Linked DNA regions of Homo sapiens. The protein of the gene in region 1 interacts with the protein of each later gene in a biochemical or structural test. Each region holds a gene or a part of one and is shown in the gene's direction. Other genes may lie near its edges.

Region 1 (7,218 bases):
GCAGAGGAAGTTTCTTATTGGAGAAAGTGAATATAATCCCTATTAACTGCCACCCCCCCCACCAATCTATATTTCCTAATGCTGGATCAACTAGTGATAATATCACAACATTACTCTGTCTCAGAAAAAAATGTCACAGGTTCATGACTGAAAGATCACAAAAATTGGTAGCGTTCATCAGAAGTGGTATCTCAATTTTAAAGTGCTTTTCAGTCATTCCATCTGGTTCCCAGAAAGGAAGCTTTGGCATCTTTGATATATGGTGCAAACTCAGCTCTGTTCTTCAGCTGTGAATGGCCATTTGTTATTCTGTGTGGCCACTCGGATGGTCCTTTAAAAATAAACTTCCGAACATTGAAGCAGAGACTTCTAAGGCTTCTCCAGCTCTTCAGCTCTACAAGAGACACTAGAAGAGTGTTATGCGATGATGAGACCTTCAGGTTCTGCAGAGCAGGCTGAGCAGCTCTGGCTATTGAGGACCACCCTGAGGAATAAGGGTGGTCCTCACCCTACCCAGCTGCTCCTCACCCTACCCAGCTGCTCCATGACTGAAAAGTTTGGAAAGATTTTAATTTTTATAACTCAGATCATATAATCATTGATCATCTGCAGTTTAAGCTGGACACAGCCCTGAGGCAATGCAGATAGATGAATGTACTTTGTCCCTTTCCTCAAGGAGTACCAGGTCAGCATTATTGGTAAACAGATCGTCACAACTTGGCAGTTTATGTGCAATATTCAGAGCAAGTTCCTGGTTACAGAAGTATCTGAGTATCTGCATTAGGAGGGTCCTTGTTTTAAAATTTCTTAAAGAAGCCAAATAGGCCAGTCGTGGTGGCTCACGCCTGTGATCACTTTGGGAGTCCCAGGCAGGCTGATTGCTTGAGCTCAGGAGTTTGAGACCAGCCTGGGCAACATGGCAAAACCCTGTCCCTACAAGAAATTTTAAACAAAATTAGCTGGGCATGGTGGCTCACGCCTGTCATCTCAACTACTCAGGAGGCTGAGAGGTGAAAGGATAGTTTGAGCCAGTGATGTTGACACTGCAGTTAGCCAAGATCGTGCCACTGCATTCCAGCCTAGGAAACAGCTAGACCCTGTCTCGAGAGAAAAAAAAAAAAGCCAGCCGGGCGTGGTGGCTCACGCCTGTAATCCCAGCACTTTGGGAGGTCGAGGTGAGTGGATACGAGGTCAGGAGTTCGAGACCAGCCTGGACAATATGGTGAACCCTTGTCTCTACTAAAAATACAAAAAAACTAGCCAAGGGTGGTGGCGCCTGCCTGTAATCCCAGCTACTCGGGAGGCTGAGGCAGGAGAATCGTTTGAACCCAGGAGTCGGAGGTTGCAGTGAGCCGAGATTGTGCCACTGCACTCCATCCTGGGCAGTACAGGGAGACTCCGTCTCAAAAAAAAAAGAAAAGAAAAGAAAAAAAAGCCAAATAATTACCCCATTTAATAATTTTTAGTTATTTAGATATTAGACTTCTTTAAGTGGAACTTGTTTCTGTCTGGTGGCTGGGGAGAGGGACAGCATATGCTAATTGTTTCTCTGTACAGTATTGTTCGTGGATTTACTCTAATCCCACTTTCCTCACCTGCTTGTGATTAAGACGGGTGTCAGGGGTAGGGTGGAGTGAATTGAAGCCACTTGGCCAGAAAAGGGATTTATTTAACTCATGGCAGTGACATCTTAACATTGTTTTCTTCTTTCCGTCATATATTTGTTCAGCAGTAATTTATTAAGCACTGATGTAGGTGCTGGGGCATCTAAGAATTAATTTGGTTGGCCCATTGCCTTCAATAGTTTGGTTCATGTGGAAATACTTGCCATCTGGTGACTAACTATATAACTTACTGCTTTAGGTTATGACTGAGATAACTCCTTAGTTATCTTTTCTGATAATCAGGGAATGAGTGGTAATTTTTTGCTTCTGGTAGTTTTGGAGACTTCATTGAAGGTTTGACTTGATAGTCACTTTATTAAACATTGTCTTTAGCTCTGTGCACTATCTCTTCAAAATTATCTTTTGCATTACCTCTGAGAACTTTGCAACCTGGAATTGCCTTCCTAGTTATTTTATCACATCCTTCAATTTTACTTTTTTAACACTCCTAAATTGTATCACCATCTGAAATTATTTGTGTATGGTACGTCTCCACAATACTATCCGGTTTCCTGAAAGCAGAGACCTTATCTGTTTTCCTCACTGTTGTATCCCCAACATCTAGAACGGCTTGGCAGGAGTGGATGTTGAGTGAAAATGTGTGAGTATAAGGTCACCAGGACTCACTGTGTGACGATGGTAGGCTCGTTTCCTCACCAGCAAAATGGGGATAATATATTGTTGCGACGCATAAAGGAAATGCTATATGTGAGGGCTGGGCACCTAGTCTTGTTGCTTAGTAAGTGTTTCCTTCCCCTTTGCTGTATCTCCCTTTGTTGAATGAACCAGAAAGGCTTTTATGGCCCCGCAGAATGGCTCTGTTCTTTCTCATGGCTACCAGGATCATGAAGCCTGTACAGTGATTGCACAGAGCTTTAGCCTGCACAAGGACAGGAGCAGCACGGAGCCTTTTCTCTTTATTCAAGTCCCTACATTCCTGTGGTCTGATGTCGTCTCTTCATAACTCTCCAGTTTCCTTCAGGCTGTGCCTCTGTGTTGTATCCACGTTTACTTGGCTGTTTTTCATACATTCTGTGCTTTGCATCAGAAGGTTCTCAGCAATTTCAAATGAATTGGTCTTAGAGTTTACAAGGCAAAGGAGAACATTGAATACAGCGTTTTCTCCCTCATTGTGATTATTCTGGGCCCACACATGTAAATTCTGTTTATTTGACTAAATTATTACTAGGTTGTTTTTTTTTTTTTAATATGAGATGGAGTCACTCTGTCGCCCGGGCTGGAGTGCAGTGGCGTGATCTTTGCTCACTGCAACCTCCGCCTCCTGGGTTCAAGCGATGCTTTTGCGTCAGCCTCCCGAGTAGCTGGGATTACAGGCGCCTGCCACTACACCCAGCTAATTTTTTGTATATTTTAGTAGATACAGTGTTTCGGCATGTTGGCCAGGCTGATCTCGAACTCCTGACCTTGTGATTCACCTGCCTCGGCCTCCCAAAGTTCTGGGATTACAGGCATGAGCCACCGTGCACAACAGCCAGTTTTGACTCAATGGGCAAAATGAAAATTTAGGTCCATTGCCCACTTTATACAATGCTGTTGAATTAATATGGGTGACAGAAAAATGGCTTTCATTCATTGACGTTGGAATTTGTTTTTTAAAAAACTTAGAAAATGATCTGTTTACTCATTCATTCTGCAAATAATTACTGAGTGCTTTTCACATGCCAGGTGTTGATAAGTACAAGTACAAGCCTAGCAGTAGTGTGAAGATTTTCTCCAGACACGACTGCTGAAGTTAGAGAATAGATGCAAGGGGCTGGCTGGTGCTCAGGGTGTTGGGGGGTTAAAAAGGGTGGACACCTAGAGAGATAACAGCTTCTGCAAAGACCACGGGGCACTAGTGGACATTGGCATATTTGGGGAACAGCATAGAGAGTACTTTGACATGGTTGGAGTGTCGTGTGCTTAAGGGAAGAAATAATCTGAGAAATGAGAGGTAAGCTGAAAAACTAAGCCTTGACCAGATGCAGAAGAGTGTATAAGCCACGTTTGAAAGTCTTTTTCCTGAGAACAGTTGAAGGGTTTTAAGTGGGAAAGTCACTTGTTCAGATTGGATTTTTGAAAGACGATTCTGGTGTGTTGTGGAAACTGGCTGGGACATTGCACGTCAGACCAGATGATACTGTAGTAATCTCAGGTCATAGTGGCCTGAACTGACAACAGAGTTGGGGACAAATGAATGAGTTCCAGAGGCATTTAGGAAGATTTTGGAGGAGTTGGTCATTGGGTATGAGAAGATGGGGTTGGAGAAATGTAAAATAACACCTGTGTCTCTGCCTGGCTTCTTGTGGGAATGGTGCCACCATTCGTTGAGTTAGGGTGCATTTAGATGAGGCACAGGTGTGGGGTTGAGATTATGAGTTCAGTTTTGGAATCATTGAATCCTGAGATATCCAGGTGAAAGGCTGGAGTAATTACAGGTCCGGTCTGGAGATAAAGACTTAAGAGTTACCAGTAGTTCCAAATTTACCAAATTTTTTTTTGTTCTTTTTGAGACGGAGTCTTGCTCGCCAGGCTGGAGTGCAGTGGCACAATCTTGGCTCACTGAAACCTCTGCCTCCCGGGTTCAAGCGATTCTCCTGTCTCAGCCTCCCGAGTAGCTGGGATTACAGGCATGTGCCACCACGGCCAGCTAATTTTTGTATTTTTAGTAGAGACGAGGTTTCACCATGTTGGCCAAAATGGTCTTGTTCTCTTTACCTTGTGATCCACCCACCTCGGCCTCCCAAAGTGCTGGGATTACAGGTGTGAGCCACCACACCTGGCAAGATTTTCCTTTTTAAGTTGATTTCTTTGGTAAGGTGTCCAAAGATGGCATACCTGTACTATGCAGTGCAAGGTGCTGTTCAGTGCTATTAAGGGAATACTGTACTATTTTATAAAGATAAGGCCATATACTCTCATTACCATAATGATTATTAGAAGTACCAAAGGAGTTTGAGGGAGGAGAGACACTGATTTTAACTGTGTTGATCAGAGAAAGCTTTGTTGAGGACTTTGTATTTGAGTGGAACCCTACAGATTGGGCAGAATGGTGGTGAGTAGACTCATGGCAGGCTGTATTAGCTAGAGTAAGGTGGAGGAGGACTAGGTGTGTCCAGGGAGGATTGAGGGGAGGTTGCACACGTGTACAGGAGCTGAGTGCCTGCTGAGTAGTTTGTATTGCTATGGTAGACGGTGGGGACCTGTTGAAAATTTGATGGCAGTGCAGTGAGAATTTTGATATGGCAGTGGTGCAGAGGAGGACTTGGTGGGGGGGCACTGATTAAAGGAAGAATTGAGAGACAGGCAGGCCAATTAGGGGATAAAAGGACTGTTATGAAAGGTCCTGCTATAAGGCTATGGCCATGCAACTAGGGACCAGGTTTTTAAGGTGAATGATGGGAATCTTCAACCAAAAGGAAGATGACGCATTCCAGGTCAGACTTACTGAATTGGAGAATTTGGTGGGACTTGGCAATGGAACTGGTTAGCAGGCAGCTGGCAGTGTGGATCTGCAGCTTGAGAAAGAGGTCAGAAGTGGAGATAAAGACTTGGAAGGCTTCCACGTGGAAGTGATAGTCGAAGGTAAGGGAGAGGATGAGGTCACCATGGGACTGTAAAGAATAGAAAAAAGAACTGAGAATGAGACCTTGGGGACGGGAAGAGAAAGAGGACCTGGGAAAGGATAAAAAGAACGGTGGCTCTGAAGGACAGTCATTCCTCATCACAGAAGATGAGGGAAGAACTGTTCGATCACAGGTGTGGGCAGCAGTTCAAATGCTGCACAGGAAGAAAAGTATTTGGTTATGGCAACATTCCCGAACCTGGTGTTGGGAGGTGTTCCAGTGTTGGTATGGGAATCATTCGATGGCGCCAGCACCGCCCAGTAGGAACAGAATGCAAGCCACGTGTGTTATTTTAAATTTTCCAGGAGTCACATTAAAAAAGTAAACAGTCCAGGCACGGTGGCTCACACCTGTAATCCCAGCACTTTGGGAGGCCGAGGTGAGCGGATCACAAGGTCAGGAGATCGAGACCATCCTGGCCAACATGGTGAAACCCCGTCTCTACTAAAAATACAAAAATTAGCCGGGCGTGGTGGCGGATGCCTGTAATCCCAACTACTTGGGAGGCTGATGCAGGAGAATTGCTTGAACCTGGGAGGCTGAGGTTGCAGTGAGCCGAGATCACGCCACTGAACTCCAGCCTGGGTGACAGAACAAGACTCCATCTCAAAAAAAAAAAAAAGTTAAAAATAAAAAGAAATAAGTGAAATTAATTTCAGTAATATCGACTTTATTTATGTAAAATATTGTTAATTCAACATATTATTGATTTTAAAATGTTAACGCAACATTTTACGTTTTTTTTGTACCAAGACTTTGAAACCTGGTGTGTATCTTAGGCTTACAACACATTTCAGTTCAAACATAAAATTTTCATTGGAAATACTTGATTTGCTTTTAGATTTCATAAAACTTACTACTTTTTCATGGAAAAGTAGGTTCACATACCCACGTTTTTCCAAACATAAAAAAGTTTTCCAGCAATGGAAATGTCAGTTTTTAAATTTAAATTAATTAAAATACAGTTAAAAATTCAGTTTGAGTGGCACTAGTCTCATTGCAAGTGCACAGTAGCCACGTGCGGCTACTCTGTTGGACAGCACAGGGAGGGTTATGCGAAGTAAAATAGGCTACTGTACAGCGGATGTGCACTCTGAAAATACCCAAAATGGTTTAGCACCATCGCAAAGCATTTCACAGGATTAGTGTTTCTTAGAATACATGTTGGCTTATCCTAGTGGAATTTTTAGAATTTAGAAGGGTCAAATCTCTAATTTTGAATGTGAGGAGACAAACTTTTTATGAAAATACACAGATTCCAAAATTTGAAATAGTGTTTGGGCTACAGTCAGCAGAATGGTACATTGGTAGAAGTTCCTAAACATACCGGTTTGTGCCATGTTTCTGAAATGCTTGGTGCAGAGGCTTACACTTAAAAACAGATCCAGCAGGAGGGGTGGGAGCGTTCCTGTTACTGTTTGTGAGTTTCTTTTGCACTCCCTGGAGTCAGTGAGGTGGTGGCTTCAGGTGGGGGGATGAAGTTAGGATTGCTTTAAGTCAGTGTCCCAGCGTCCCTGTGTGGTGGAGGTGTGAGGTGGGAGAGGGTGCCACCAGGCTAATTATGTTGTGCTTGTCTCTCACTTTTCTTATCTCACTTTTCTCCGTTTAGCCCCGTTTAGTCATTGTGTACTTTTTGCCGACCTGGGCCAATTGAACGCATATTTACTAAATATGGGTGGGTTTTTTCAGTTTATAAAAAGCAGGTTCAAAGATTTTCATTTAATTATCTCATTGATTGAGACTGCTTTGCAGCTGTTAACTAGACCATCTAAGTGATAACCAGTAAAGATAGAAAGGATCTTGAATCTGGCCGGGTACGGTGGCTCACGCCTGTAGTCCCAGCACTTTGGGAGGCTGAGGCGGGTGGATCACCTGAGGTCAGGAGTTTGAGACCAGCCTGGCCAACATGGTGAAACCTCGTCTCTACT
Region 2 (6,114 bases), on another chromosome or scaffold:
AACTTAGAGAAGTCTTGGAAGTTGCTTCTGAATTACAGTAAAGAAATTAAATGAAGTCTTTATCCTTAAATAGGGCCAGGCATTGCTATCAACATAGTGTCTTTGGTTTTCCCCTTTAAATAGAAAACACCAAGCAGGGCCTTTCCAGACAATGTAGTCTTTCCTGTAAAGAAAATGGTTTTGGTGTGGGATTTGGTAAAAACACTGGTTAGTTTGTAATGAAGAAAGAATTTTGGCATAGACAGTCCGACCCAGTTCATGGATACAGTTTGATCCCAGGGAGTTTAACAAAAGGAAGCTTTGGTTTTGCTAGCAACAGACTTGATCTTCTATAGTAATTAATTGCAATTAAGGTTTTCCAGGAGCTTTCTCATTTCTTAGCCCAGGGTCCAACCCCATTCCCTCTTTAAAAAAGAAAGAATAGGCCGGGAGCAGTGGCTCATGCCTGCAATCCCAGCACTTTGGGAGGCCAAGGCAGGTGGATCACAAGGTCAGGAGTTTGAGACCAGCGTGGCCAATATGGTGAAACCCTGTCTCTACTAAAAATACAAAATTAGCTAGGCGTGGTGGCAGGCGCCTGAGGCTGAGGCAGGAGAATCCTGCTAGTCTGAATTACAATAAGGAAATTAAATGAAGGATTTATCTTTAATAGAGCCAGGCATTGCTATCAACATAACATGTTTGGTTTTCCCCTTTAAATAGAAAACACCAAGCAGGGCCTTTCCAGACAAGGTAGTCTGGAACCCAGGAGGCGGAGGTTGCAGTGAGCCGAGATCCCACCATTGCACTCCAGCCTGGGTGGCAGAGTGAGACTCCGTCTCAAAAAAAAAAAAAAGAAGGAATAGGAAAAGGACTTAGAGGCAGTTGATATAGAATTCTACTGGGGGTAAATGACACTCTCAAAATACTTGGGAAAGAAGAATCACATGCCACAAGCTATAGCTTGATTAATATTTTAGCATGTTTTCCATGTTTGTATTCTAAAGTTTGTTTCCTTTGACATTCCATTATCTTACTTACTAGAGTGCCACCATTCTTATTTGTAATACAATCAGTGTTTTATGCCATTTGTGAATCACACAATTGTTCTTTTTTCCCCATCACACACACTCACACACAAACACACACACTGTTAAAAATAAAAGAGGGGAAGGATAAAACAAAAATAGATAGAATGATGATTATTACAATGTAACTTTAACATATATGAAGAGAAATTCTAACTCAGTTAAGTGAGAATTAAGATTGAAAGTATTAATGTTGCAAGTATTATCTCTAGCCATGGAATTTTTTGCTGGCTATAGAATGCTAATGTGAACAGAGTATATATCAGGAATATGATGTATTATGGCACAGTGATAATATTATTGTTGATATTAGCCAGATGTGGTGGTTTGCACCTGTAGTCCGAACTTCTCAGGAGGATGAGGCAGGAGGATAGTTGAGCCCAGGAGTTTAAAGCAAGCCTGGGCAATACAGCAAGACCCCAATCTTTAAAATAAATAAATAAATAAGAATTATTCTTGAAAGTAATATTCTAACCTTCTGCCAACCAACAGAGATCCTCATATTCTTAAAGAAAATTAATATAGCTTATGGTTTTGATAAATTGGACTCTGATTTAAACTTTAAAATGTTATGACTTTTATTCTGATACATGGCTTCTAAAATATGTAAAAAATTATATTGAATGAATTAATACTTAACCTGTTCATTTCTCTTAATTTATGTATTTATTCTGACTTTATTATACAGCTTATGTCTCACATCTGCCTTCTTGATATGTGCAAAATATTGTGTAAAAATAGTTTAAAACTCATCCCAGTTCCTAGTCAAGCGTGGGCTATAAGAGAGAAGGCTTAAGGTGTTCTTTAATGGAGGAACTTTTGAAAGATCACAAATGGAAAAAGCCTATTGAGAATTTATTGCCTTTGAGAGTAGAAAGGGCTCTAGAATATGAGCCAGAGACTTGGAATTTAGTAATAGGTCTCCCACTGATTTGCTCCGTGTCCTTAGGCAATTCGTTTAATCTCTGTGTGCCTAGTTTCCCCTTGTAAATAAGAGTGGTAATACCTGTCCTCACCTACCTCACTAAATTGTTGGAGTTCTTTTGTTCTGAGTCAGGGTCTCACTCTGTTGCCCAGGCTGAACTACAGTAGTGTGATCATAGCTCACTACAGCCTCCAACTCCTGGGCCCAAACTATCCTCCTGCTTCAGCCTCCCAAGTAGCTGGGACTAGAGGTACATGCCACCACACCCAGCTAATTATTTTCTTTTATTGCAGAGATGGGGTCTCACATGTTGCCAAGGCTGATCTCTAACTCCTGAGCTCAAGCAGTCCTCCTGCCTCAGCCACCCAAAGTGCTGGGATTATAGGCATGATCACTAAATTGTTGTAAGAATAAGATAATGTTTGCGGAAGCATTTGAGTTCTCCAAAGGAAAAGCTATTCAGACGTTCAAGATAATAGAAGAGTGTTGTGTGAAGGATTCCTTTCCAGTTTGCCTCTGTGAAAATGTCTTTGTTGTAGATCATTTTATGAAATAGGAATAAGAGAAACATAGGCCTTATCATGGTGTAGTGTTCACTTACAAACATATCCTGTTGTTTCTTCCCTGCAAGATATCCAGCACACAGGCTGAATTTTTCTTTATAATAATCCTTGGCAAAAGCATAACTTTTCAAAAACCAAATGATTTTAGTGGTGCTATGGCAGCTGCAGTTTTGAGTTAGATTAATGTGGTGAAAACCATCAAATACTTAGAAATTGACTGGGTGCGGTGGCTCATGCCTGTAATCCCAGCACTTTGGGAGGCCGAGGTAGGTGGATCACTTGAGGTCAGGAGTTCGAGACCAGCCTGGCCAACATGGCAAAACCCCGTCTCTACTAAAGATACAAAAATTAGCTGGGCACGATGGAGGGTGCCTGTAATCCCAGCTACTCGGGAGGCTAAGGTGGGAGAATTGCTTGGACCCAGGTGGCAGAGGTTGCAGTGAGCCAAGATTGTGCCACTGCACTCCAGCCTGGGCAACAAAGCGAAGCTCTGTCTCAATAAAAAAAAAAATAATAATAATAAAATACAAATACTTAGAAATTAACTTCGCCTTTGCCTTCAGGCACTTTTGCTACATGTTAGCATCAGAGGCTATTGTACAACTAGATGGTTATTCCCTGTTTCTTGGCCGATTTTTGGTACCTTTCTTTGAAGAAGAGGGTTAGATTTTAAGAAAGAAAGTGTGCTTATTTCACTCATGTCTTTGCAGAATTTAACTTTGCTTTACTTTAAAAATTCCAATCATCATGTACCTATAAAGGTTAAAATATAGTGAAAGTTTCTGCTTCATGTGAATTCAATTCTGAGCACCTGCAGGTCATATCAGGTGTCTGATGCAGTTACCTTTATAGATCGTGGCAGGTCCTTACATTTCAACAGGCTTATGCATTTCCATGGGGGGAAGAGATTCTGTTTCTAGGAAATTACAAAGGGCACACCACTGCAGGGAGTGTAAACAATTCTTTGTTGCAACAGACAAGATTTTTTTTAAAAAAAGAAAAAAGGATGCATTTTAGGTACACAGGGTATGGACGCATTCAACATTTACTTTTATCTCCACAGATGCCAACCTCCCCTTGTTGCAGGCAGTTGGGCTTTTCCAACTCATTGCTAACAAAGCTGGCATCTGCATTAATTTCAATGAGAATTTCAAGTACTGAAGATGAAAAGTTGGGGAGATTCATGTTTGAAAAATGAAAAATGAACAAAAAATCCACCTTGTGCAGTGAGATAGCTAACGCTGATATATCAGGAATAATTTTAAACTATTTTTGCTGTAATGTGTAGCTTTAATGTCTCTTTTCAGTTATGGACCCATAAAAGTATTCCTATATCTTGTGAATAAAGATCATTCTTGTGGACTAGTACGTGGATGCATTCATAGGCTTTGGGAAGCAGTGGTGTGCGTATGTGTGTCTATATCAATATTTTATGTTTATAACTCTGCGTATTAAGTTTATATAGAAAAAAATAATGTCTTTCTTTAGTGTTTGGGGGACTCAATGGTAATATGACCATTGCAGTGTAATCTGACTGCTCACTCTAGAGAACACTTCTGTTATACACAATGCACATACAAACATACACCCCTAAAGCGTAGCTAACTGCTCCCACTAGATAATTGCTGCTAAAAACAAAACAAAACAAAACAATACAAAACAAAAAAAACCCTAAGTAATGGAGGAAGAAATAGCATTCTTTTAAAAGGGGCTTTTCTGAAGAGTAAAATGTAAATACAGGACATGTGGGGAGGGTGGGGCCGCCTGCAAAATGTCCTGAAGATGGACAAATAGCCTTTTAAATTCTACTTTTTAACCATCTTTACCGTGTGTGCCTATTTGTATTGCAGATGTGAACTACTATTTTTGGAGGTTGATATCAGTATGTTTTGAAACTGAATTATTACATAAAATCAGAGTAACCTCTTTCTCCATCCTCCTTTTCCACACTATTCTTGCCAAATATTTCTACTGAAACCCAGTTTCAGCAAGGCAAAATGATGGGACTCTCAAACCTCCCTCCTCATCTTCCCTTCCCCTCTGTCTTATGCCTGGCCTGGCCTTTTTTGTTGTTGTTGGCTTTTCATAAGTAAGAAAAATTTATTGTAGTATTTCAAGACTGCAGAATTTCAAGTGTATATCTATAAATCTTTTTTTAAAATCTTCGGCTACACAGTAACATCAATTAAAACAGAAGAGTGAGTCTAAGTCTGTAATATGCTGTAGGACCAGATAAGATTTTGAATGAGACTAAACTTGACTGCCATATTTTAAGAGGAAATTGAAACTTTATGGTGGAGAATGGATGAGAGCAAGTCTATGATATATATGTAGTCATTGTATAATTAGAAACACCAAATGCTGAATCCTATCACTGTGTTCTTGGGGGCCAGGCCTTGGATTTGGTTGTCATTTAAACTCCTTGAAGATTATATGTAATTATAATGAGCAGAAGGCAAATAAAGTTTTTGAACAAAAGTCCTTGTTTTCAGTATTTAAAATTTGGTAATATATTTTCTTTTTCAGTTAAACTATCTTCCCCACAAAAAATATTATACTTCAGTTAAACTATCTTCCCCACAGAAATTATTATACTACGAACAAGTTATGAGTGAGACTGAGAAGCTTGAAGAAGCTGGTTTTTAAGCAGCTCATATAATATTTTGTGTTAAAGAAAGTGTCATTGTTTCCTGTTGGGAGGCAAATAACAACAACAACAAAAGAAATTGTCATGATTCTTTCTGAGCCAAACTGTCACGAAATGTTCTGTGACAGAACCACTACTCTTTTTTCTGCCATTCTGCCTACTGGAGAGTTCTATGTTGTATTTGTTTTTAATCCTTGATTTTAAAAATATTAATGGTTTTAGTGTTGCTTAGCTTCAGTTTGAAGTATAACTTTCACTAATAACTGCAATAAAAAGAAAAGCTTTGCTCTTAAACTTTCTCTTGTGTGGTCATCATTACAGCTCTTCAGACTAGGGAACGAGACCCATGTGATACAGTGGAAGGCACTTAAGCTTTAGTCATGAAGTCCTGGGTTCAAACCTTGATTATGTGACACTCTGAGCAAGTTCCTTGATGCTTCTAAATCTCAGTTTCCTCCAGTGTGAAAGGAGAAAGTAGAACTGTTGGAGCATTAAATGAGACAATGCATAGAATGTTTCCAGTGCTGGGCATGTGGCTGGAGCTCGGGTTTTTCAAAGACTGCCTACCTCCCCTCTACCCCACCCATTTTTCACCTTCTTAAATAAAAGACAGTGAGTGGAGTGAAAATGGGGAGACGACGCTAGGCTTCCAAACTTTGCCAGGAGGTGAAAGAATTAAGAATATGTAGGAAAAAAAGGAACCAAAATGAACTGGAGGAATCTTTACAGGCCCAAAAGTGGATAAACAGCCCCGGTATGCGATGCAAGAAAACACTGGACTAAGATTTTGGAAATCAGCTCTCAACCCTCTTTAACTGCATAATTTCAGGTATAGCTCTTCATTTTATAATTAAAGTTGTTGGACTAATACCAGAAGTTGCAAGTTGGCAGGCCAGTTTCAGTCTGCAAATA

What was found.
Region 2: the proteins of TNRC6B (region 1) and AGO3 form a complex in vitro, tested with the Homo sapiens proteins (one study listed by BioGRID).

What each region holds. Positions count from the first base shown.
Region 1 is NC_000022.11:40,180,840-40,188,057, forward strand, and holds part of TNRC6B (trinucleotide repeat-containing gene 6B protein), read left to right. Parts: intron 1-7,218.
Region 2 is NC_000001.11:36,067,005-36,073,118, forward strand, and holds the end of AGO3 (protein argonaute-3), read left to right. Parts: 3' UTR 1-5,496; downstream 5,497-6,114.